3 linked regions of the Homo sapiens genome follow. The protein of the gene in region 1 purifies or fractionates together with the protein of each later gene. This does not show direct contact. Each region holds a gene or a part of one and is shown on either strand. Other genes may lie near its edges. The genes, in order: FBXO10, ACSL4 and PDE6D.

Region 1 (7,105 bases):
AGAATTCACCACTAAAGAACTTATCCATATAACCAAAAACCACCTGTACCCCAAAAACTGTTGAACTAAAAATAAAAATAGAGCCCTTGGGATCGTAATTCCATAAGGGCAGGAACAAGATCTGTTTGGCTCCACAGTGAAACGGAGCTCTGCATAGAAAGGTGCTCAGAGCTCAGTCCGGTGGGGAGACAAATAGGTGAAGGAAGAGATACCAAGCCCTGTGGGGAGTGCTCTGTGAGGACCAAGCCCTGTGGGGAGTGCTCTGTGAGGTATGTGTGGACAAAAGCACTAGACAAGAGATAACTCAAACAGCCTGGGGTGGGAGGTGGGAGCTCAGGGACTCTTCCTGAACAAAGATACAGCTAAGCTGCAGGACTGCAGTGCAAGGCGGGCAGGAGGTATGCAGGGTATATAGGGAAGAGTGTATGCAAAGGCCCCAAGGCAGGATCTCTCTCTTCATGAAGCATCTACTGTACAGCAGGCACTGTGCATGATTATTCTGTTAAGGAAAGAGAGCTGAAATAGTCCTGACCTTGACCCGGAGACCATGAAGATAACTCGGGAGGCTCCCAACACCATGACAAGGAGGGGACACCCCATCCCTGGCTTCCTGCTGGTGAGCCCTTGTTCATCCTTCAGGACTCAGCTTCTCCGTCCCCCCCTGTGGGAAGTCCCACCCACATTTCCCAGGCTGAGTCCTGGCAGGAGGGATACTGTCCCTTGTAGTGCTGAGTGATTACGGTTCTGTTCTCAGCAGAGGCCACGAGGACTATCCCAGGGTTGTGCCCTGTGTGGGCACCACACGTCACACACATGCAGACATACTCACTTTAGTGTCGGACCTGGGCAGCAGCTGCAGCCCGCTGCCCCGGTTGCCAATGATATCGTTTTCAATGACGATGGTGCTGTCGCCCTTGGTGATAATGCCGTGGCCTCTGTTGTCATAGATACCATTGCCCCGGAGCTCCACTTTGCACTGGGCCTCAACCTTGACCCCACTTTGCCGGTTGCAGGAGATGCTGTTGTTGGCCACTCGGGTGGGTTGGCTGCTCTGGGCCACAGTAATGCCTCTGTCCCCATTCGCGTGGATCACATTGGTGATGACATGCAGTGCCTCGCTGCTCTGGACATAGAGTCCTGAGGCTATGGGTGGAAGGGTTGGAAAGCACAGGGGGTCCCAGGGTCAGCCCTGACACCACCAGTCAGGAAAAGCCTTCCCTGAATTGTGCACTCCGGGAGAACGGAGTGGAGAAGAAGAGGTACCAACACTCAGAAACAACCCTTGAGTTTGCGTCTTCCAAGCTGATGAAACAGCAGGAGGAAATCCAGGTGCGTCAACAAAACTCTGGTTCTTCTGCATGAAGTCCTTATTCAGTGTAGCCAGGGAAACACCATGTGAGAAGGCTCCTCTGGCCTGAGCTCCCACCGTGTGCTTGAATGCCTCCTGCACCACCGCCATCCTACTGCCGCTTACACCTCCCTGACGGGGTGCTCACTGCCGCCTCAAGGCTGCTCACTCCCCCTCTGGACAGGCAGATCTACTCATTAGAGGGTTTTGCTTTGCTCTCCTTCCTACACTAACCTGGAATCTGCCTCCCTACTGTTTGGGGAAATTTTCTTTTTTTTTTTTTTGAGACGGAGTCTCGCTCTGTCGCCCAGGTTGGAGTGCGGTGGCGCCATCTCGGCTCACTACAAGCTCCGCCTCCCGGGTTCACACCATTCTTCTGCCTCAGCCTCCTGAGTGGCTGGGACTACAGGCACCCGCCACCACGCCCGGCTAATTTTTTGTATTTTTAGTAGAGACATGGTTTCACCGTGTTAGCCAGGATGGTCTCGATCTCCTGACCTCGTGATCCACCTGCCTCGGCCTCCCAAAGTGCTGGGATTACAGGCGTGAGCCACCATGCCTGGCCGGAAATTTTCTTCTTAATGTAAGTTCTGTAATTTTGGAGTACAAAAACTTACTAAGCGAGTAATATGTGTCAAAAATGTGTTTGAAATTTGGGAAAGGAAAACTGACGCTTGCGGTTGTGTGTACTTAGAGACACTAGGTACATGAGGAGAAAAACCCCAAGTCAGCAGGATTAGAGCTCCATGGCTTGTCAGGAAAAGAAAGCAGGGCAGCCAGACCCGGGGGCGAGGAGAGGAGGGCTCTGCGGTAGGTCCCTCTGCCCACCAACAGCAACAAGGGTTGGGGCAGTGCTGGGGGAGGTTGTGTGCAGGACAATGACTGGGGCCCTGCAGCAGTGTCTGGAGCCATGAGCCTGCAAGCTCAAATCTCTTGGTGGCACCAGCCTGTTGCTTCTCCTGGCTTGGTTGAGAACAACAAAAATAAGTATTTGTGAACGTAGGTGGCTTTGCCTGTCGTACCGGACAGACAGCATGGCCACATGGAGGAACCTCTGACCTGGGAGGAGACAGAACTCATTTTCTGAATAAGTGGGTTGGGGCTGCTGGTTATCCATCTCCCTGTCCTCTACCACTACCAGAAGCAAGTGCTTACCAGGCCCAGGAATCTCTTTTAATTTTATTTTGTTTTAGAGACAGGGTCTTGCTCTATTGCCCAGGCAGTAGTGCAGTGGCACCATCATAGCTCACTGCAACCTCGAACTCTGAGTCCTGAGCTCAAGCATCCTCCTACTTCAGCCTCCCTAGTAGTTGGAACTACAGGCATGTACCACCATGCCCAGCTAATCTGAAAAAAATTTTTTTTTTCTCAGTAGAGATTGAGGTCTCTCTATGTTGCCTAGTCTGGTCTTGAACTCCTAAACTCAAGCGATCCTCCTGCCTTGGCCTCTCAAAGTGTTAGGGTTACAGGTGTGAGCCACTGCGCCTGGCCCAGGAATCTGTTCTGAATAAGCCTTCCTCCATTTCCCGACCCACCCATCCATCCTACCCTCCCACCCCCACCCCACAGTGATTTTGATAATCAGGAGGCTTTGGGAGCCCTGGAGTTAGGTGAACTACACAGTAATTATTTTTTTTTAATTCAAGAAATATCAAACATCTTCTACCATCTTTTTTTTTTTTTTTTTTTTCCTTTTAAGACAGGGTCTTGCTCCTGTCACTCCTGAGCTCTGAGCACCTAGAATACCGTGGTGCAATCACACCTCACTGCAGCCTTGAACTCCTGGGCTCAAGCGATCCCCCCGCCTCCTGAGTAGCTGGGACCACAGGCACATGCCACCAGATCCAACTAATTTTTCTTTCTCTACTCCTTCTTCTTCTTTTTTTTTTTTTTTTTTTTTTGTAGAAACCAAGTCTTGTTATGTTGCCCAGGCGGGTCTTGAACACCTGGCCTCAAGCAATCCCCCAGTCTTGGCCTCCCAAAGTCCTGGGATTACAGGCTTGATCCCTGGCACCTGGCCTCCATTTTTCATCAGGTTTAGGATAACATGGATTTAAAACACTTTTATTTTCTGCCTCTCTAAGAAGGAAAACTCACTGCCAATTAAACCATGATATGCATCTCGTGGGAGATGTTGAATTTTGAGAAATGTATCCTAGAGTTGATTAAAAGCATGTGTGCCAGAGGTGGGATTTGGTACTGCAGGGACAGGGGCACTGAGCTGGGTGGGCTTCAGTTCTTTGTCTCAAGTTCATGGCCTATCAGTGTTGATGAAACAGCCACAGAAATAAATACAGTCGCGAGGCCTCATAACAAGTGCCAGTGGGGATGGGGAGGGCCCAGTTCAAAGGAGGAAGGAATGAAGGGGGATATTCACAACAGGTTTTGAAGTTCAAGTTAGTTTGGGACGTGTGGATGGGAGAAAGGCATGAGTGAGGTCAGCAGGTTAGGAGGCAGGAAAGAATGGATTCAAGTTTAATGAATAAATACAGGAGGATTGGGGATCAGGCTGGAAGAAGTGGCTGATGAGGCCTGAGGGCAAGTTGGGATCAGTCTGCAGAAGGCCCTGCCTGGCGGCCGCACCGTCTCAAAAATAAGAAGCACCTCTGCTCGGCCGCCCCACCGTCTGGGAAGTGAGGAGCACCTCTCCCTGGCCCCCACGCTGTCTGGGAAGTGAGGAGCGCCTCTCCCTGGCCCCCACACTGTCTGGGAAGTGAGGAGCGCCTCTGCCTGGCCGCTGTGCAACCCTCCAAGTGTGAAGTGGCAACCTTGTGTGTGATTTTTCTGCCCTACCCAGGTTTGCATCTTTGACATTAAAGTTTACTTTTAAATTTAAATTAAATTAAAAGTTTTAAATTGGAGAAAAAAAAAGACAGTGGGGAGCCATGGAAGGTTCTTGAGCAGGGGCTGAGGGGGTATACTCACCTCCATTGTGATTAATACTGTTAGACTCAACAAGAGCTATGGTGATGGGCCGGCGCAGTGGGTCGTCCTCCTTCTCCAGCTCTGTCTCCCAGAGGATGGCGTCCCCATCCTCGCTGAAGTTCTCTTGAGCCCTGTGGCCTCGAGGTAACTCGCTGGAGCCATCCTTCTGGCTAAATACTGCCACTCCATACAGGCCATTGTAGCTGACGTGGTTGCTGGTGACATGGGGGAGGCTGGACGACATCATCCACACACCACAGCCCTTGTTAGCTGGGACAGTGAGAGGAGCTGGTCACCGACACTGAACTCAGGTGAAGCGGCACCTGAGTCTCCCTGAGAGGGGAAACAAAAGCCACTGGCCTGGGAGAGAGTCCCTGCCTTGCTAATGACCTCGGACAAGCCACCTGATGGCTCTAGCTGCAGACTTCACCTTCACACAAGAGAGGTCATCAGGATCAGGTGAACCTCACAAGCTCGGCTCGTTCCACACAGTGTGAAAGTGCTCTGAGGACTGTCAGGCCACATGTCCACATCAGAAGCACATGAGCCCACAGTGACAGTGCCAAGGGGGCACCAATCCCTCCCTGCATAGGAGGCAGCCTCAGTTGGAATCCCAGCCCTACCACTTCCCAGCTGTGAGACCCTGAGCAGGTTACCAGACCTCTCTCTGTCCCTCAGTTTTCTCATCTTTTAAATGGGGTTAATAACCGTGCCTCCTTCAGAAGGCAGTCATGAGGATTAAATGTGATCATGCATAGAAAGGGCTGAGTAGAGAGGTGGGCCTGAGTCATCTTTATTATTATCACTGTATTATTAGAGATAGAGTCCAGACAGATGAAGGCTCTGCCCAAAGTCACTGCGTGAGTGAGAAGAGTTTTCTTCCTGTGATTATCTTGTTTTCCCATTATATTTTCCGTTCTCTGGGATCAAAAGAAAGGATAAGAGGAGTTAGATGCACATGAGCCAGGGCTGAAATGGTCCTGTCCTTAAGACATGACACAACTCCTGTCTTTTGCTATTTTAAAAGGGGATAAAGCCTTCTGCTTTGCTAACCCCACGGGGTCAATCTGGACTACAATGTGATTTGTAAGAGGCTCTTTGTTCTGGGAGGGCCTGGGTGACTGTGGCCTGAGAGTGCCTGTTCAGATGAGGTCTTTGAGGCACAGGGAAAGGCAGTGACCTTCTCAGGACCCACAAGCTGGAGATGGAACCTGGGCTTCCTGCCTCCCCGGCTGGGTTGGGAACAAGCTCCTCACCGTAGATGGTATTTCCTTCTATGAGGCCTTTGCCTTCGTCTCCCACAACCACACCATCTGAATAGCCAAAGCAGATGAGGTTACTCCTGAGAACGGGGATCCCTCCACGGCGGATGTCCACACCTCCCCACTGATTCTCACGGATGACATTTTCTATGGAGAGAAGCAGAAAAGAAGGTCAGTACCCAAGGGCCAGCTCCAGTGCTGGCAAATAGGACTTGGACAGTTTTGATCAAGGCTACTCCAGACCAGAAGGCCCTGGCCTTACCCTGCCAGCAATTAGCACTGTAAATCTTGTCTGCTGTCTGATGTTTCAGGGACTTATCTGCTGACTCCTTTCCCCAAGGGCAAGGCTTGTGTCTATCTTGTGCACTCCTATCTCCCCGGCACCTACTATACACCCAATGGCCTTGAGGACTGATGATTAAAAATGAACTAGTTTTGGCCAGGCATGGTGGCTCATGCCTGTAATCCCAGTACTTTAGGAGGCCAAGGCGGGTAGATCACTTGAGCCCAGGAGTTCCAGACCATCCTGGGCAAAATGGGGAAATCCTGTCTCTAAAAAAAAATACAAAAAAAATTAGCCAGGTGTGGTGGTGCGTGCCTGTAGTCCCAGCTTCTTGGGAGGCTGGGTGGGAGGATCACTTGAACCCTGGAGGTCAGGGCTGCAGTGGGCTATAATCGAGCCACTGCACTCTGGCCTGGATGACAGACTGAGACCCTGCCTCAAAAAAAAGAATAAACTAGCTTTGGTGAGTGACACTGGTGTCCAAAAAACCAACCAACCAAACAAAAAGGAAACAAAACAAAGAATAGGCCGGGTGCGGTGGCTCACGCCTGTAACCCCAGCACTTTGGGAGGCTGAGACGGGCGGATCACCTGAGGTCGGGAGTTCGAGACCAGCCTGACCAACATGGAGAAACCCCGTCTCTACTAAAAATACAAAATTGGGCGTGGTGGCACATGCCTGTAATCCCAGCTACTCGGGAGGCTGAGGCAGAAGAATCACTTGAACCTGGGAGGCGGAGGTTGCAGTGAGCCGAGATCGCGCCATTGCACTCCAGCCTGGGCAACAAGAGTGAGTGAAATTCCGTCTCAAAAAAAATAAATAAATAAACTGGCTTTAGAGTCCTCAGAGGCAGAATGTGGCCATTTACCCACAAGCCTGTGAGAAGGCGCTAGCCTCACCTGCAATGGCTCAGGAGTCTCTGTGTGACTGGCCTCTTCCTGTCTCCATGTCCCCACTGCAGGCCCCTTGTGCACCACACTCCAGTCCCACAAGCGATGTCCACTCGGCCATGCCAAGTCTGTTCTCACAGGCGGCCCTACACGGAAGGTTCTTTCCCAGCTCCTCCAGCCACTCCCACTCAGGGTCTGGTTTCCTTGTCACCTTCTCAGAGGGCTGCCCTGACCACACAATCCCAAATGCCTACCCAGTCCCTCTTTTGCCTTAATTATCCATAGAGCACTTGTCACCCTCAGATGGGATGTTTTTTGCTCATATACGTAGGCTTTTATTTATTTATTCGCTTCCTCTCCTAAAATGTCAGTGGCTGACAGCCTCGTTCACTGCTGC
Region 2 (7,872 bases), on another chromosome or scaffold:
TTTGTAGTTGTGATGTTACACTATACTTATGCATGAGGCTATTATTGGGGGAAATTAGATAAAGCGTATTATTTCTTACAACTATATGTGAATCTACAACTATCTCAAAATAAAAAGTTAAAAGGGAAAGAAAGAGTATATAAGACCAGCCAATGGTAGAAGTGGAAAAACAAAGCTTTTATTTTTGCTAAAGGCTCAGCAATTGAAAGGATGGAGAAAAAGGTAATGTCAAAGAGTCTACAGGCTACAATTAATAGAATCATCTCTTCCTCCCCTATGGAAACTTAACTTCTCCAGAATTTTGTTTGTCCTTGATTTGACTGTTGTTGTTTTTAACAAAAATAAACTGGATGTACATCTGTCTCTCCACATGCCCCCCAACCATCTCCATCAGCCCAAAGTATAAACTCATAGAGTAGGGTTTGTCTTAACCATCATGTCCTGAGGGCCTGACATACGTGACAGATGAAGGAAGAAGATAGTTGAATGAATTAATAAATGAATGAGATGCCCACATATTATTTTAAAGTTCCTAGCCAATTACAGTTGTAAGGCAGTATGTGAGTGCGGTGGCGCGATCTCGGCTCACTGCAAGCTCCACCTTCCGGGTTCACGCCATTCTTCTGCCTCAGCCTCCCAAGTAGCTGGGACTACAGTCACCCACCACCACGCCTGGCTAATTTTTTGTATTTTTAGTAGAGACGGGGTTCCACCGTATTAGCCAGGATGGTCTCGATCTCCTGACCTCATGATCCGCCGGCCTCGGCCTCCCAAAGTGCTAGGATTACAGGCGTGAGCCACCACACCCAGCCATTCCCTTATAAATTTCTAAAAGCCATGGACATTTAAAAAATAGTGCGGTATAACACACATTTCACTTGCAAGCAGAAATTAACATAATACCCAACATTTGTAAAATGCTTCTGAGTTTATAGATTTTCACATATAATTATTTATTTAATCAGGATTAAGAACTAAGTATACCTAAATTGAAACCACTATACACAAACCTTTGAGAAAAACATTCTAGTCAACTGGTATAACAGGATTTATAACAGCCTTAACGCAAATTGCATTATATGTGTGTGTGTATACCTATATATACACGTGTGTATATATATATTTGTCATATATATTCATTATAAGAATATATCATTCAAATTGGGGGACTTGTGGATCATTTCAACAACCATAAAGACACTTATTTTACAGATGCAAAAACTAAGAGAGGTGAAGTGACTTGTTCAAGGTTAAATATATATCTAGAGTTGGGTCTAGAACCTGAGCCTCTCCAGAGTTCCAATTCATTTCTCTTGTCTGAATTGAACAAGACTCTTCTTTCTTCACCCATCTCACCCCTACCAAAAATACTGAAAGAAATATCTTAATCTAAATCACTTGTGTTTTTAAATAGGGGGTTTTCCAAAAAAAAAAAAAAACCCACAAAATTGAATTTACTCAAGCTTTCAATTGCTGTATTACACCTTCCATGGATTTTTAGTTGTCAAATTATTTCTTATAGCAGGACAATAAGGTACTTTATTCTAAGGTACAAGTATACTAACAGTTTAATGTTTCATCCCCCACCTAAATGGCAGAGAGTGTTAATTCTAACAGGAGTCTTACATGTCTTACACTTTAGCAGTTTCAATCAAAAGATGAGCTATTTTACAATTTAAGGAAGAGGCCTTACACTGTTAAAATCTTGACCGATATGCTCAATGGCAGTACCATCATTGAATCTCCACCTGCTGCCTTACGTATCAAGAACATTTAAAAGTCTTTCTTGTTAGAGACAAAATAAAAGAAAAACTAAGGTGACAAGCGACTATGAGAAATAAGGCTTTAATCAGGTTAAATTTGCATTATGCAGCCTGCATGAATTTAGAGGTCCTAGAATCAAAACACTAGAAGGAACCTTTGATATGCTCTAGTTCAACAGACTGATTTTTGCAGAAGAGGAAACTGAAGCGCTGATGAGACCATTAACTGATAAAGCAAACCGCTTACTTTTTCAAAGGGATTCATTTCAATGCCATTTTACCCTTATTTTGCATCTCACTGTTGTTTCTCAGAGCGACGATTGACCTTTTTTTAGGTGAAAAGAGCGAATAGAGCGTATTAATTTCAAGAGGGTGAAAAATGCCTTTGAAGGAGGAGATGCTGGAGTGAAGAGGAGAAATGACGTCTTATTTAAAATATGTAACCCCTTGATGGGGTTAGACAATGAATCATATTCTCCTAGATTTTTCTATGTCTATAGACATCAGCCACAGTTCTTTCAGGCACTCAAACGAGAGGAAGAGGAAGTGAATAAAGCTCATACTAAATATATAGCACCCACTGAAGGCAGGGATGTAGACAGAAAGAACGGGGGTGGGGGAAGGAAGGAAAGCACGCTTCGCCAGGATCCAGCTGTTTTCTAACAAACCTAAGCCTACGGAAGCTAGGAAGATATCGGAAGCAAGGAAGATATCGGAAGCGACGGCATCCCTCAAATTCGAGAGGGCGGATGCCTCTAGGGCTAGAGAGGCTCCCTAGCCCTCAGTTACAGAGCGACTGGGAGGGGACAAAATGGAGTTGAGGTTTAGGGGCACCCTAAAGGTCGTTTGGAGGTCTAGCAAGCACTTCATGGTCTCCTCCGGAAAGGGCCGTGGCAAAGCCTAGTACCCCGATCAGGAAGATGACTTCTGGCCCTCGGGATGCGGTGAGCGGCAGGAAGAGGCAGGCTGGGGTTCCGAGGACCCCAGAGTCCATCACAGGAGCAGATACAGTGACCTCGGGAATCTTCCCGGCCCCAGCGGAGGCGAGCGGATAGATAGCCCTGGCTCAAGGAAAAAAGCGAGCCGACTCCAGGAGCTGGAATGCCCACCCAACCTCCTCCCGGCTCAGGTGAGGTACGCCAGTCCCCCTCTGGAAATGGGGCCCTGGTACCGACAGGGCAGGGGTGCCGGGGCCGCAACCTCCCCATCCAGGGATACTCACCGGAGGGGCGGCCCACCGCGTCTTCGCAGCCGGCCGGCGCCTGGCACTCGGAAAGCTCGCAAAAAGGAACCGCGTGCCCGCTAGCGCTGGGACGAGGAGGAGCGCGCGGCGGAGGCCAGAGAAAAAGCCGCAGCGGCGCGCGCGCACCCGGACAGCCGGCGGAGGCGGGACTCAGCGCGAGCCCGGAAAAGACGCGCCCGGAGGGGCGGGCGGAGCGGGGGCGCGCGGTGGTGTGGCAGAGCCAGCCGAATCGCTGGCTGCAGACGGCTCGGCCCACCCACGCGCCCGCCCCCGCTCGCCCGGGACGTCAGTCGAAAAGGCGGAGCCGAACGGGCTTCCCGGGGCGCGGGAGGGGCGCTGCGAGGAAGGCGAGGCGGCTAACGGCTCGCCTCAAGTTGTTGCTCCCGCTGGCGATCCGCTTCTGTCAGTCTCGCTGCTGGTGTCGTTGAGTGTGTTTCGGGATGTCCTTGCGCCTAACAGCAGTGAGGCGCAGAATTGGCCCACGCCCTCACCTGCGGCTTGCTTCGCAGGACTCCACCCCAGGATAAAAGTTCCCCTCGGGTCATCTTCCAGCTGCCCTCAAAAGACACTCATTTTTGGGTTTCACTGCTCCTCTTTAAGAGAGCTATCTTGAACACTTTGACTAAAAGCATCTTGCTCCTGTAAGCCTGAACTAATGCCTCTCATCCGTTTATCTTGCCTCTTACTGCGTTAAGATCCCCGCTCACTCCCACTGATGAAATATCACAAGGACGCAGGATTTTCACGTTGTCTTTCATTTCCACGATGGTATCATGGCAAAAAAACCCCCAACTGATAAGGAAAAGTCACCGCAGCTTTGTGACATCTTACTAGCCCTGATCATTGCTTATAAGCCGGTCATACGAATGCTGTTCCAACAGATGCAAGAAATTGCTATTAAAATTAAAATGCCAGCGAACTATCTGAGGGCTTCAAAAGGGACAGACCATAATTGCAAATGAGGCCTGATAAACTGCCAAGAATATATCACCCAAAAAAATAAATCTCAAGAATTCTTCCAGTTCCCTGATGCGTAATGGTGAACTAGCTTCCTGTTCCTGATGGTAATTGACATTTCACTTCACTTGCTGATTTCCATTTTCCCATAGAATTACCATTTGTGCTTGTGTGTGTGTATATATATATGTATATATAAAATGCCTTACCACCTGAGATTACAAGCTAGAGTAGTTCTTCAGTGTGCATCACAATTATCTGGGGTGCTTGTTGAAATGTAGGTACCTGGAGCTACAACCCCCAGGTATTTTGATTCTGATCTGGGTAGGGATAAGAAATTTGAATTTTTAATAAGCAGCCCAGGTGACACTAAAAGTGGTTAGCTGAGAGCACAGAGCTATAGTTTTTGTGTTACTACTCTAAAGCCATATTACCAATTCAATTTCCAAGAAACCCACCCACTTACATATAATATACCTATAAATATTGCTAAGACAGTCATGTAGCTTCCTTTTTCAAGATTGACCTACAAAGTTCAGTACTTCAAACAACGAGTTTAATTGTCATGTTTATTTTATGAAATCTTGTTTTAATACCAGAAATAAGCAATCATATGTCAGGTACGTAATTCACTGGGTAACTATGATGTACAGAGCACTATCACCTACAGTTGGGTTAACACAAATGAAATTGAAGAAATGAATATCGCTGTTCTCAATAAAGTTAGTGTCTAGTTGTGGAATTAAAATATAGATATAATACAAACCCAGTGTAGCACATAAATCAGTGTGCTGGATGAAGATGAAAAAGAACTTGTAATTAAAGAGTACTTTTGCCAGTTTCCTTTATTGTCGGTCTCTTAGCCCAGACATTTTCAATTAGGTAATTTCCTCTGAACAGAGTCTTCAGCTTACTGAAGTTCCTCCAGCTCTACAAGATATAAAGGAAAGAAATCACTATAGCCTGAAACTATCCGTTTTTTGGTATACAAATGTGTGTATGATATACATATAGATATGTTTATCAGACCAAGAAACTACTTGGATTTTCAAGATCTCTTATTACTTAAGCTATTCATTAGTGTGTACAGTTCTGGCTGTCTTCATCACCTACCACATCTCACCTTCTTCCACATTTAACTGCACCCAAGTTGAAGAGGAAAGAAGAACTATACCTCCAAAAAGGAAACCAAGTATAACCACGCTATTTCCAGCTTTCCTTTTTCGGAGTCAAAACAAACCTTGCTTAATTTCTTGTCATCAGAAACCTTCCAGAAATTACTGCCCAGGAGCAAAATATTTCCCAAGCAGCTGTCTGACATTTTAAAGAGAACATTTGCAACGTTGTTTATTAGTTAGGAAGATAGGGTATTATTATCCCTATTTCACAGATGAAGAAATAGATGCAGGTTAAGTGTCTTGTCCAGTCACACAACTAAGTAGTAACAGAGCCTGAATTTCCTACTACACTGCTTATGACTCCTAGACCAGGGTGCTTGCCGCTACATTAAGCTGCCTCTGTAATGAGTCCTACCCAGAACTACCAACCCAATTAGAAATGGAGTAGATAAACGTATGGAAATGGAAGAGTTAGGAAAATGTACAATGCAATTGACAGATTCAAAATGCAATGTAATAAGTACTAAAAGCATGAGAATTAGTCTGTTAGAAGCTAAACAGAATTTAAAGGACAGCTCTGTTAACAGGCACTGATATTTAGGCCTTGCCTATTTTATTATTCTGTAACAAGAAGCTGAAACAGATAGCCAGGCTGCTCTTGGCATTAGTTATTTATGGAAGGGCAGAAAACAACTGTTCTTCATTGACTGTGTAACAAGCCTTTGCGTGTTAAACTTCACGGGTTTGTAGAATAATAATAATTTTCTCCTGTGGTCTAAATACAAGCAGCAGGGCTTCATAATAATATTTGCATTGACAAGTTGTGTTAGATTTTGTCATTAACAAACCTTATTTTTTGCAGACCCAACAACCAGGCCAAATATTGTCTTTAGTGGCTTGTGTTAAACAACCGGTGAAATCAGAAACCTACGTAGATGATCATCTCACTGTGAACATAAATAATAACCTAAGCCACTCCTTTCAAAAATGATCAAAGGCATAGTAGCTACATCTAAATGTTATTTTTGAGAAATGATTTGTTTTTTCAAAATAACTATTTCTTTTCATTCTGGCACATTTTTCAGGTTTTTAAATTAATGGAAACACCAAAACAAATAGACATCTAGTGCACCCAGATAGGAAGACACAGTATTGCATGGAGTCAAGTTTTTCCAAATTAATCCGTCAAGACAGTGTGGTCCACATCAAAATCACAGCAGGATTTTAATGGAACTTAATTTCGGTTTCTCTCATGAAACTCATTTGTCCTTTTTAAAGATAACTACAACACCCTCTAAATAAAATCCTCCACAGTTATCCTTGAAATTGTTTGTGTGACCTTCCCATAAAGAATCAAAAATAACAAAATATTTTTATTATCCATAAGGCCATGAGTATGTGAAAAATCTATTGTGGTTGTCATTGAATCTGTAAGAAAGTTGCCTTTGGTATATTTTTGCCCACTCTCTGTAGTGATTCTAGCCTAGTAATATTACAAAAAAAGATAGGTCATCAATTTCATAACTTGCCTTAAATCTCTTTTTATTATGCTTTCCCTTTAACATACAAAAAGCTTCCAATATGTCCTATTCTTAAAAGACCAGTAAAATAACAAAATTTTAAAATGTCCCTTACTCAAAATCTTCGACTATTAGTGCTGGGAAGCCACTTAGATGCAGAGTAGCACGATGGAAACCATATGGGTTTGGACTTAAGCCAACCACCCTAGACCAAGTTATATAACATTTTCCTGAGCCTCAGCCTCTTCTGTAAATTGGGGATAATAATGGTACCTCATTCATAAGACTCTTCTGAGGGAGGATTAAATGAAATCATGCCTATAAAATTCCTGATTTATGGCAAGTGTGTATAAAATGATGGCTATTAATCACCAAGTTCAACCTCTTCATTTCACAGATGAGAAAAAGGAAGCTAGAACCAGAACAATCTTTCTCCAGATTCTCCTATTCAGTAACTTTCTTTACAACTAAGGACAAATTCCTTGAGAAGTGGTCTACAGCCACTTCATTCACTAAGTCACTATCTGACCTCCAAGTTAATCTCCATTCCCATCAATCCTACAAATATTCCTGTTGCTAATGCCGTCTATGAAATAGACAAACCCCATAATTATGCTTAAATAATTATGGGACTATTTCACTCTGAAACTGAGTGAATAGTCCCCACTGGGACTATTGGACTGATTAAACCTTTGGATATTTATTCAAAGCATCCCTCTTCAAACCAAAATTCTGTAATAAAACTGTCTGCTTCACTTGGACCCTACATGGCACCTGATACAAGCCAAATTACTGTTATTCAAATAAAACATTTTTAACAATATGTTTGAATGAATAATTATTACTTTTAGAAATAGATATAAAAGATTATTAAATATTTTTAATTTTTCTTTTCAAGTTGGTAAGATCTTTAGATTGATAATATTCAATTTTGGCAAGAATATGAAGAAACTTGCACTCATATATTCTAAGTAGGAGCGTAAATTGGTTTGGCCCCTTTATTTTATTTTATTTGTTTATTTTTGAGACAGAGTCTTGCACTGTTGCCCAGGCTGGAGTGCAGTGGCACGACCTCAGCTCACTGCAACCTCTGCCTCCCGGGTTCAAGAGATTCTCATGCCTCAGCCTCCTGAGTAGCTGGGATTACAGGTGCCCGCCCCCATGCCCAGCTAACTTTTGTATTTTTAGTAGAGATGGGGTTTCACCACGTTGGGCAGGCTGGTCTTGAACTCAGAACTCAGGTGATCCACCTGCCTCGGCCTCCCAAAGTG
Region 3 (7,105 bases), on another chromosome or scaffold:
TGCTCACTGCAACCTCCGCCTCCTCTGTTCAAGCGATTCTCCTGCCTCAGCCTCCTGATTAGCTGGGACTACAGGCGCACACCACCACGCCCAGCTAATTCTTGTATTTTTAGTAGAAACGGGGTTTCACCATGTTGGCCAAGATGGTCTTGATCTCTTGACCTCGTGATCCGCCCGCCTCGGCCTCCAAAAGTGCTGCAATTACAGGCGTGAGCCACGACGCCCAGCCGAGACTTTTCTCGTATAGCAGCAAAACCTAGACAGAATCTCTCCAGAGGGTAAAATATAGTGTTATTACACACATGATGATTCCAGTCAGCTGTGTTGTTTAGGGTTCTTCACTGCAAGCTATTCAAACAATGGGAAAGGGTATCTGAGGCTTTTGGAGCTGCCTGGAAGTTGAAGGACAGGGTCTGTAGCAAAGACCACACAGTAGGAAAGGGCAGGTTGGCATGCCCCTGCTGCCCCCACCCTGAAGAACTTCCAACTCCCTCGAAAGTCCTGTAGCTTCAGGACCCCAGAACTGGGTAGCACGTGTCCAAGGCTAGGCCTTCTTGTGCTCACCCCTGATTATGCCAGGGCTGGGAGAAAAGGATCTGGCCTTTCTAGCTGCTGTAGTGCAAAGCAGTCACTGCCTTCCACAAGGTAGAGACTCTCTTCTTTGGGAAGAGAGTCTGATCACAAGATAGCAAAAAAAGAAAACCAAAAAAAAGACACATGTAAACTATATCTATATTATACATATATTTATCTGCAGCTCAGTCTCTTCGCAAATATTAACGATCTTTTGCAGACAGCCTCTGTGCTTGCATAATGTTAATTTTCTTTTCCTTTAATGGTTTGTCAATTGTTTTTTAAAACAAAACAAAAAAAACCTTAGCACTCTCTTCTTAAAGTTAGTCTTTATTTTTATTAAGTTGTATGTGTTCATCATTTAAAGAATCATAGTCAGCCGGGCAAGGTGGCTCACACCTGTAATCGCAGCACTTTGGGAGGCCAAGGCAAGCGGATCACCTGAGGTCGGGAGTTTGAGACCAGCCTGAACAACATGGAGAAACCCCATCTCCAGTTAAAAATACAAAAATTAGCCGGGCATGGTGGTGCATGCCTGTAATCCCAGCTACTCAGGAGGCTGAGGCAGGAGAATTGCTTGAACCCAGGAGGTGGAGATTGCAGTGAGCCAAGATCATGCCATTGCACTCCAGCCTGGGCAACAAGAGCGAAACCATCTCAAAAAAAAAACAAAAAACACAGTCTATCTAGTTTCTAATGAAGAGCACCACTCCCTGTCCCCCTATTTTCTACTCCCCAGAGAAAACTATTTTCAATCCTTTTTAGCTTATTTATTTGGTATTCATCTTGGTATTTCTAAAAAGCAAAATGTGGCTATGTCGTAATGTTTCCATTTTAGCATTATTTATCCACTTTCCACTACGGAAAATGACAGTTTTGTTGTTTCTCAACATTTCGTGCCTGACTATCCAGATATACATACTCTTGTTCCCCCATCCTCCCAGGTAAATTATATTGGGTGTTAGCATGTGCTTTCATTGTTATGACCATATCAGCACTACTTGCAATGAAGCCATGAGTTATACTATGACTACTTTTTTCTTCCAGTACTACCTTTAATTTTTCTTGATGTCAGTACTTGGATTTTTGTCATTTGCTTAGATTTTCTGTGCTTCTCATGAATTTGACCCCAAAATCTCCCTCTAATTGTATAAATCTCCTTTCCATATAAACACACTAGGTATTCTATGAATTTTATCTTTTTAAAAGAAAATCTCTTCCTGAGCTTTGTGACCTGCTCTAGCCTGGACCCTGGACTAGTCACTCTCCAGACCTGTTAAAGAGCTATTGTCTTGGGATCTTCCTTCACTGTCACTCAGGGGACTCCCTTCAGCTGTTTCTTGCTTGCTATATCCCATGTCATCCCCTTTCTTGGTTTTCTCTGTCATTTTGATGAAGCCATATTTTCCTTAGTTTCTTAAGAAAGCAAATATTTTTTAGTTTGTTTCAGGAATTGTTTCCCTGAAAATTTTAAAGGCCCTGCTAAGTTGTCTCCTACCCTCCAGGGTTCCTTTTGAATTTGATTTATTCTGATTTTTTTTCCTATTCTGATTTGACCCTTTGTATAATGACTTGTTTAACCTCTGGAAGCTTTTCGCTTTTCTTTATCTTTGATATTCTGTAAATGCACTAATGATGTGACTTGGGCATTTGCTACACCCTTTTTTTTTTTTTTTTTTTTTTTTTGAGACAGGGTTTCGCTCTTGTTGAGGCTGGAGTGCAATGGCGCAATCTCCCGGGTTCAAGTGATTCTCCTGCCTCAGCCTCCTGAGTAGCTGGGATTACAGGCAGGCACCACCACGTCTGGCTAATTTTGTGTTTTCGGTAGAGATGGGGTTTCTCCATGTTGGTCAGGCTGGTCTCGAACTCCCGACTTCAGGTGATCCGCCCGCCTCAGCCTCCCAAAGTGCTGGGATTACAGGTGAGCCATCGCTCCTGGCCTAGACACTTTCCATCTACGAAATTTTCTTGAATTAATTTATTGATGCCATCCTCCCCTCTGTTCTCTCTGTTCTACCTTTCTAGAACTTCTATTAGTTAGACACTAGAACTCTTGGACTATTCTTGGACTATAAGTTTTTGTGCCTTTACTCTCCTTTTTTTTTTTTTTTTTTTTTTTGAGACAGGGTCTCCCTCTGTCGCCCAGGCTGGAGTGCAGTCGCATGATCTCGGCTCACTGCAGCATTGATTTTGTGGACTCAGGCAATCCTCTCACCTCAGCCTCCAGAGTAGCTGGGACCACAGGCATGCACCACCATGACTTGTTAATTTTGTATTTTTGTAGAGATGGGGTTTCACCATGTTTCCCAGGCTAATCTCAAACTCCTGAGCTCAAGGAATCCACCCACCTCAGCCTCCCAAAGTGCTGGAATTACAGGTGTGAGCCACCACACTCAGCCTGCTCTCCTGTTTTCTATCCTTGCCTTTTTCGTTCTGAAAGCTTTCTTCAATTTTGTCTTTGTGTTGAGTTGTTTGGTTCTGCTATCAAAATATATGTGTTTCTAGAGTTCTTTTTTGTTCTCTGAATATTCTTTTTTAAATTGGTATTATTGACTCATTTAATGTATGAAACAATACAGAAACTAGAAAATATAAATACTTATGTTAGAAGGCATTTTCTGACAGAGAACATCAGTTAACCAGCTTCATAAGTTGTAACCTCAAACCAGAGAAATTCACCTAAAATATACAGAATTTTATTATATTAATTTTTAGTGTCTGTAAAGGTTATGTCTTATCTCTCTTTTTTAATGCTCCTTTTTAAAACTTATGTCTTTATCTGTAAGCCTCTTTATTCTTCTAAGTTACTTTTTTCTTTTAGTTTGTTTTGGTCTGTCTTTCATAATAAATGCTTTCTTAAATTTCTGTTGATACTTGGCTATCTTCTCATATTTAAAAACAGGGCACTCAGAGGCTGAGGCAGACAGATCACTTGAGGTCAGGAGTTCGAGACCAGCCTGGCCAACATGGTGAAACCCCATCTCTATTAAAAATACAAAAATAAGCTGGGCTTGGTGACGTGCTCCTATAATTCCAGCTACTCAGGAGGCTGAGGCACAAGAATTGCTTGAACCAAGGAGATGAAGGTTGTAGTGAGCCGAGATTGTGCCACTGCATTCCAGCCTGTGTGACAGAGTGAGACTCTGTTTCAAAAAAAAAAAACAGAGGGGGCCACTACAAAGCAATTTGAGAGTTCTGTGCTTGTGGGTGAAGTTTATGGACTGTGGCATTCACTATAGAGTGATCTTCATGAGTTGTTTCCTTGGGGTACATCTGATATTTGTTTCTTTAGGTATTTTATCTTGGTTGGTCAGATCCTGTTGGTAAATTTTAAATTTTGCACTATTCGTTTTCTGTCCCTTTCTTGCAGTCTCTAGGTGTGTGCAGTCTTAGGATTCTCATAGATAAAAGTAACTTCTCTAGGTTTCTGCTTCTTCCTTTAGATGTCTTTTTGACTCTCCTCACATTCTTATGTGCTTCCATGGCAATGAGCAGTTTGACAAACTTTTTAAAAAGTAAACAAGAGTTGGTGGGAGTAAACATGAGACACCTAGAATACAAAGTGGGAGTCACTTTCAGTGCCTTATTTTTCCTTAGTCATATTTGATCAGAAATTGGATGAACCTTCGGGATGCTGAGACAGGGAAGATACTCTGGCAAGGAACAGAAGACCTGTCTGTCCCTGGTGTGGAGCATGAAGGTACTTTCCAACCCTTTATCTACACAGGGCTGTGACCAATGCCAGACTAGCACCTGAGCATAAGAGAGCTAAGTTAACACATACCTAATAGGCGGGTGAGCCCCTGAAGACACAGCATGTTAATCCATGTGTTGTTGACAGTTTCAGTTACTTTCTTTTTTTTTTTTTTTTTTTTTTTTTGAGACACAGTCTTGCTCTATCACCCAGGCTGGATGGAATGCAGTGGTGTGATCTTGGCTCACTGCAACCTCTGCTTCCCAGGTTCCAGCGATTTTCATGCCTCAGCCTCCCGAGTAGCTGGGACTACAGGCGTGCGCCACCACATCTGGCTAATTTTTGTATTTTGAGTAGAGATGGGGTTTCACCATGTTGGCCATCCTGGTCTCGAACTCCGGACATCAAGTGATCTGCCCGCCTCAGCCTCCCAAAGTGCTGGGATTACAGGTGTGAGCCACCACGCCCAGCCAGTTACTTTCTTAACAGTTCTTTCTCTCACTTCCCAAAACCCATTTTGTGCTGATATTTTACCATTAGAACATACCCAAAGATAGAAACTAAGATCTCAACTTTTTCTCCAAAAGAAAATTTGCATTTTTATCTCCCTGAAGTAAAGAAGAAGGAAGGGGTTAAAATCACCAGAACAGAGTAGAGAGAAGGTACCCATGCAGCCCCCTTCCTGATGAGAGTAGTTAGATGAGGCCCTTAGATGCACAAAACCTGGTGTTCCTTGAAGATCTAATATCTTTCAGATACGGGTGACCAATTAGAGACCTCTGCTTTCAGCCACACAAAGTGTAATGCACTTACCAAGGCATTATCCAAAATGTAAGAAAGTGTTCTCTAAATCAGCTGTAAGAAAGTGTTCTCTAAATCAGCTGTAAGAAGCTCCCAGAAATTTGAAGCATCATAGTCCTGTGGTTTTCATTTAGAAAGGCTTCAACATTTGTTTTTCTCTTACCAGCCCGTGTTCCCAAGAAAATCCTCAAGTGCAAGGCAGTGTCTCGAGAACTTAATTTTTCTTCGACAGAACAAATGGAAAAATTCCGCCTGGAACAAAAAGTTTACTTCAAAGGGCAATGCCTAGAAGGTATTCTGCTGCCTACATGCCTGAAATCAGGGCTTAGGGCGACCAGGACAAAAGGCAACAATACCCAGTGAACTAAAGCAGTGCTTTGATAACATTCCTTTTACAACTCAGTTTGTGGTAGGATTCCTACACTCTGCAAGACTGTGAATCCCCAGTGAAACAAACCAAAACAAAGCTAGCCACTACAAGGGGCTTTGAGGTCTCTGACACTGGGAGCGTGGATGGTGGTGCCTGGTTTAGGCACTGACGTTGTATTGTGATATGATCATGGAGGAAGCTGCTATGAGCAGGGCCTAGTACAGTGCTCTACATACAGTATCATACAGATTTGACTGGCAAGGCCACTCTGCATTGAATTCTCACCATGCAGTGTAAAGGGCACATAAGCCCCTTCAAGCTAATTCCAAGTGAATTTAACTATGTATCTATATATAGTTCACATCTAGCCTACCTCTAAGAAAATGCTGCTTATATTGTGTCCTGCTCGCTGGTCCTAGTCCTTTAGACCTCAAAGCATGAGAAGCAAGCCTTTGGTGTGGTTCAGAGGACAACCTGAGCAGGCTTCCCTGTCTTTTTTACGCCCCTGGTCTGAGAGGTTGCTGATAGCTTCCTTTGGTGGTTCTCAGGGTAGGAAGAGGCTCACTCTAGAGAGGGAGACAAAGAGCCCTTAAACTTTATACTGGGGCACCTGCTCACCCCGGCTTTTCCTTCTTCCTTCAGAATGGTTCTTCGAGTTTGGCTTTGTGATCCCTAACTCCACAAATACCTGGCAGTCCTTGATAGAGGCAGCACCCGAGTCCCAGATGATGCCAGCAAGCGTCTTAACGTGAGTGAGCAGGTCTCAGGAAATTATGAAGTGTGTCTAGAAACAGGCATTCCAGGCAGGTGGGACTCCTGGTGCCATTCAGTGGGCAGAGAGCTCGGTTGAGAAATAGAGTAAAAGAGTATCCAAGGGTATCTAGGTTTCCAGGTTCCTGACCTTTTTCATATGAAAAAGACAGTATGATAGAGTAGAAAGAATAAAAAACTAAAAATAAAAATAAAACTTTAGATTAAACCAGATTTAAATTCCTGATTCACCCTGACTACCTGTGTCATCTTGGGCACTAATATACTTTATCTCTCTGAGCCTTAGTCTTTCATCTCTAAACACAGAAATTAATTCTGTCTTACAGAGGTGTAATGAAGATAAAATGTGATGACATGGAAGGAGACTGGCATTTAATATATATACCGAATCTATGTTAATTTGCTCCCATTCCTGACTACCGTACTTCCGGTATCTCTGTATTTTGTTTAGATCACCTTTAACAGAATCTGGCAAAGTCCTATTAATAATTCTGTTTTCGAGGATACTACTTGGTTACAGTTTTTTGGAGAATGGCTTACCATATTAATAGCTTTGGTTCCTGTTCCAAGAACAATTTGTTTGTGCTTTTTCCAAAAACACTGTCAATAACTTCCTACCTCCCATTGTCTGTGGGAAAGATGTTAGTCTCTCAAATGTTATAGTAATAGTACCTTCTAAAGAGTTAGCTGGGCGTAATGGCACACACCTGTAATCCCAGCTACTCAAGAAGCTGAGATAGGAGAATTGCTTGAACCCAGGAGGTGGAGGTTACAATGAGCCAAGATCATGTCACTGCATTCCAGCCTGGGTAGCAGACCAAGACTCTATTTCAAAAAAAAAAGAGTTAGTCCCACAGATAATTGTGTAATATTGGATCATCTCTTTCAACAGTTCC

The links.
Region 2: the proteins of FBXO10 (region 1) and ACSL4 purify together in Homo sapiens (affinity purification with western blotting; 3 studies listed by BioGRID, with this or other methods). This does not show direct contact.
Region 3: the proteins of FBXO10 (region 1) and PDE6D purify together in Homo sapiens (affinity purification with mass spectrometry; 3 studies listed by BioGRID and IntAct, with this or other methods). This does not show direct contact.

Annotation. Positions count from the first base shown.
Region 1 is NC_000009.12:37,517,296-37,524,400, forward strand, and holds part of FBXO10 (F-box only protein 10), read right to left. Parts: intron 5,683-7,105; coding exon 5,530-5,682; intron 5,194-5,529; coding exon of another isoform or gene 5,162-5,193; exon of another isoform or gene 5,051-5,161; intron 4,544-5,050; coding exon 4,274-4,543; intron 1,144-4,273; coding exon 830-1,143; intron 1-829. UniProt on the Homo sapiens protein: Substrate-recognition component of the SCF (SKP1-CUL1-F-box protein)-type E3 ubiquitin ligase complex. Mediates the ubiquitination and degradation of BCL2, an antiapoptotic protein, thereby playing a role in apoptosis by controlling the stability of BCL2.
Region 2 is NC_000023.11:109,730,154-109,738,025, forward strand, and holds the start of ACSL4 (long-chain-fatty-acid--CoA ligase 4), read right to left. Parts: upstream 3,105-7,872; 5' UTR 2,986-3,104; exon of another isoform or gene 2,358-2,985; intron 1-2,357. UniProt on the Homo sapiens protein: Catalyzes the conversion of long-chain fatty acids to their active form acyl-CoA for both synthesis of cellular lipids, and degradation via beta-oxidation. Preferentially activates arachidonate and eicosapentaenoate as substrates.
Region 3 is NC_000002.12:231,736,268-231,743,372, reverse strand, and holds part of PDE6D (retinal rod rhodopsin-sensitive cGMP 3',5'-cyclic phosphodiesterase subunit delta), read left to right. Parts: intron 1-2,266; exon of another isoform or gene 2,267-2,416; coding exon of another isoform or gene 2,417-2,494; intron 2,495-4,170; coding exon of another isoform or gene 4,171-4,184; coding exon 4,185-4,273; intron 4,274-5,234; coding exon 5,235-5,360; intron 5,361-6,080; coding exon 6,081-6,186; intron 6,187-7,105. UniProt on the Homo sapiens protein: Promotes the release of prenylated target proteins from cellular membranes. Modulates the activity of prenylated or palmitoylated Ras family members by regulating their subcellular location.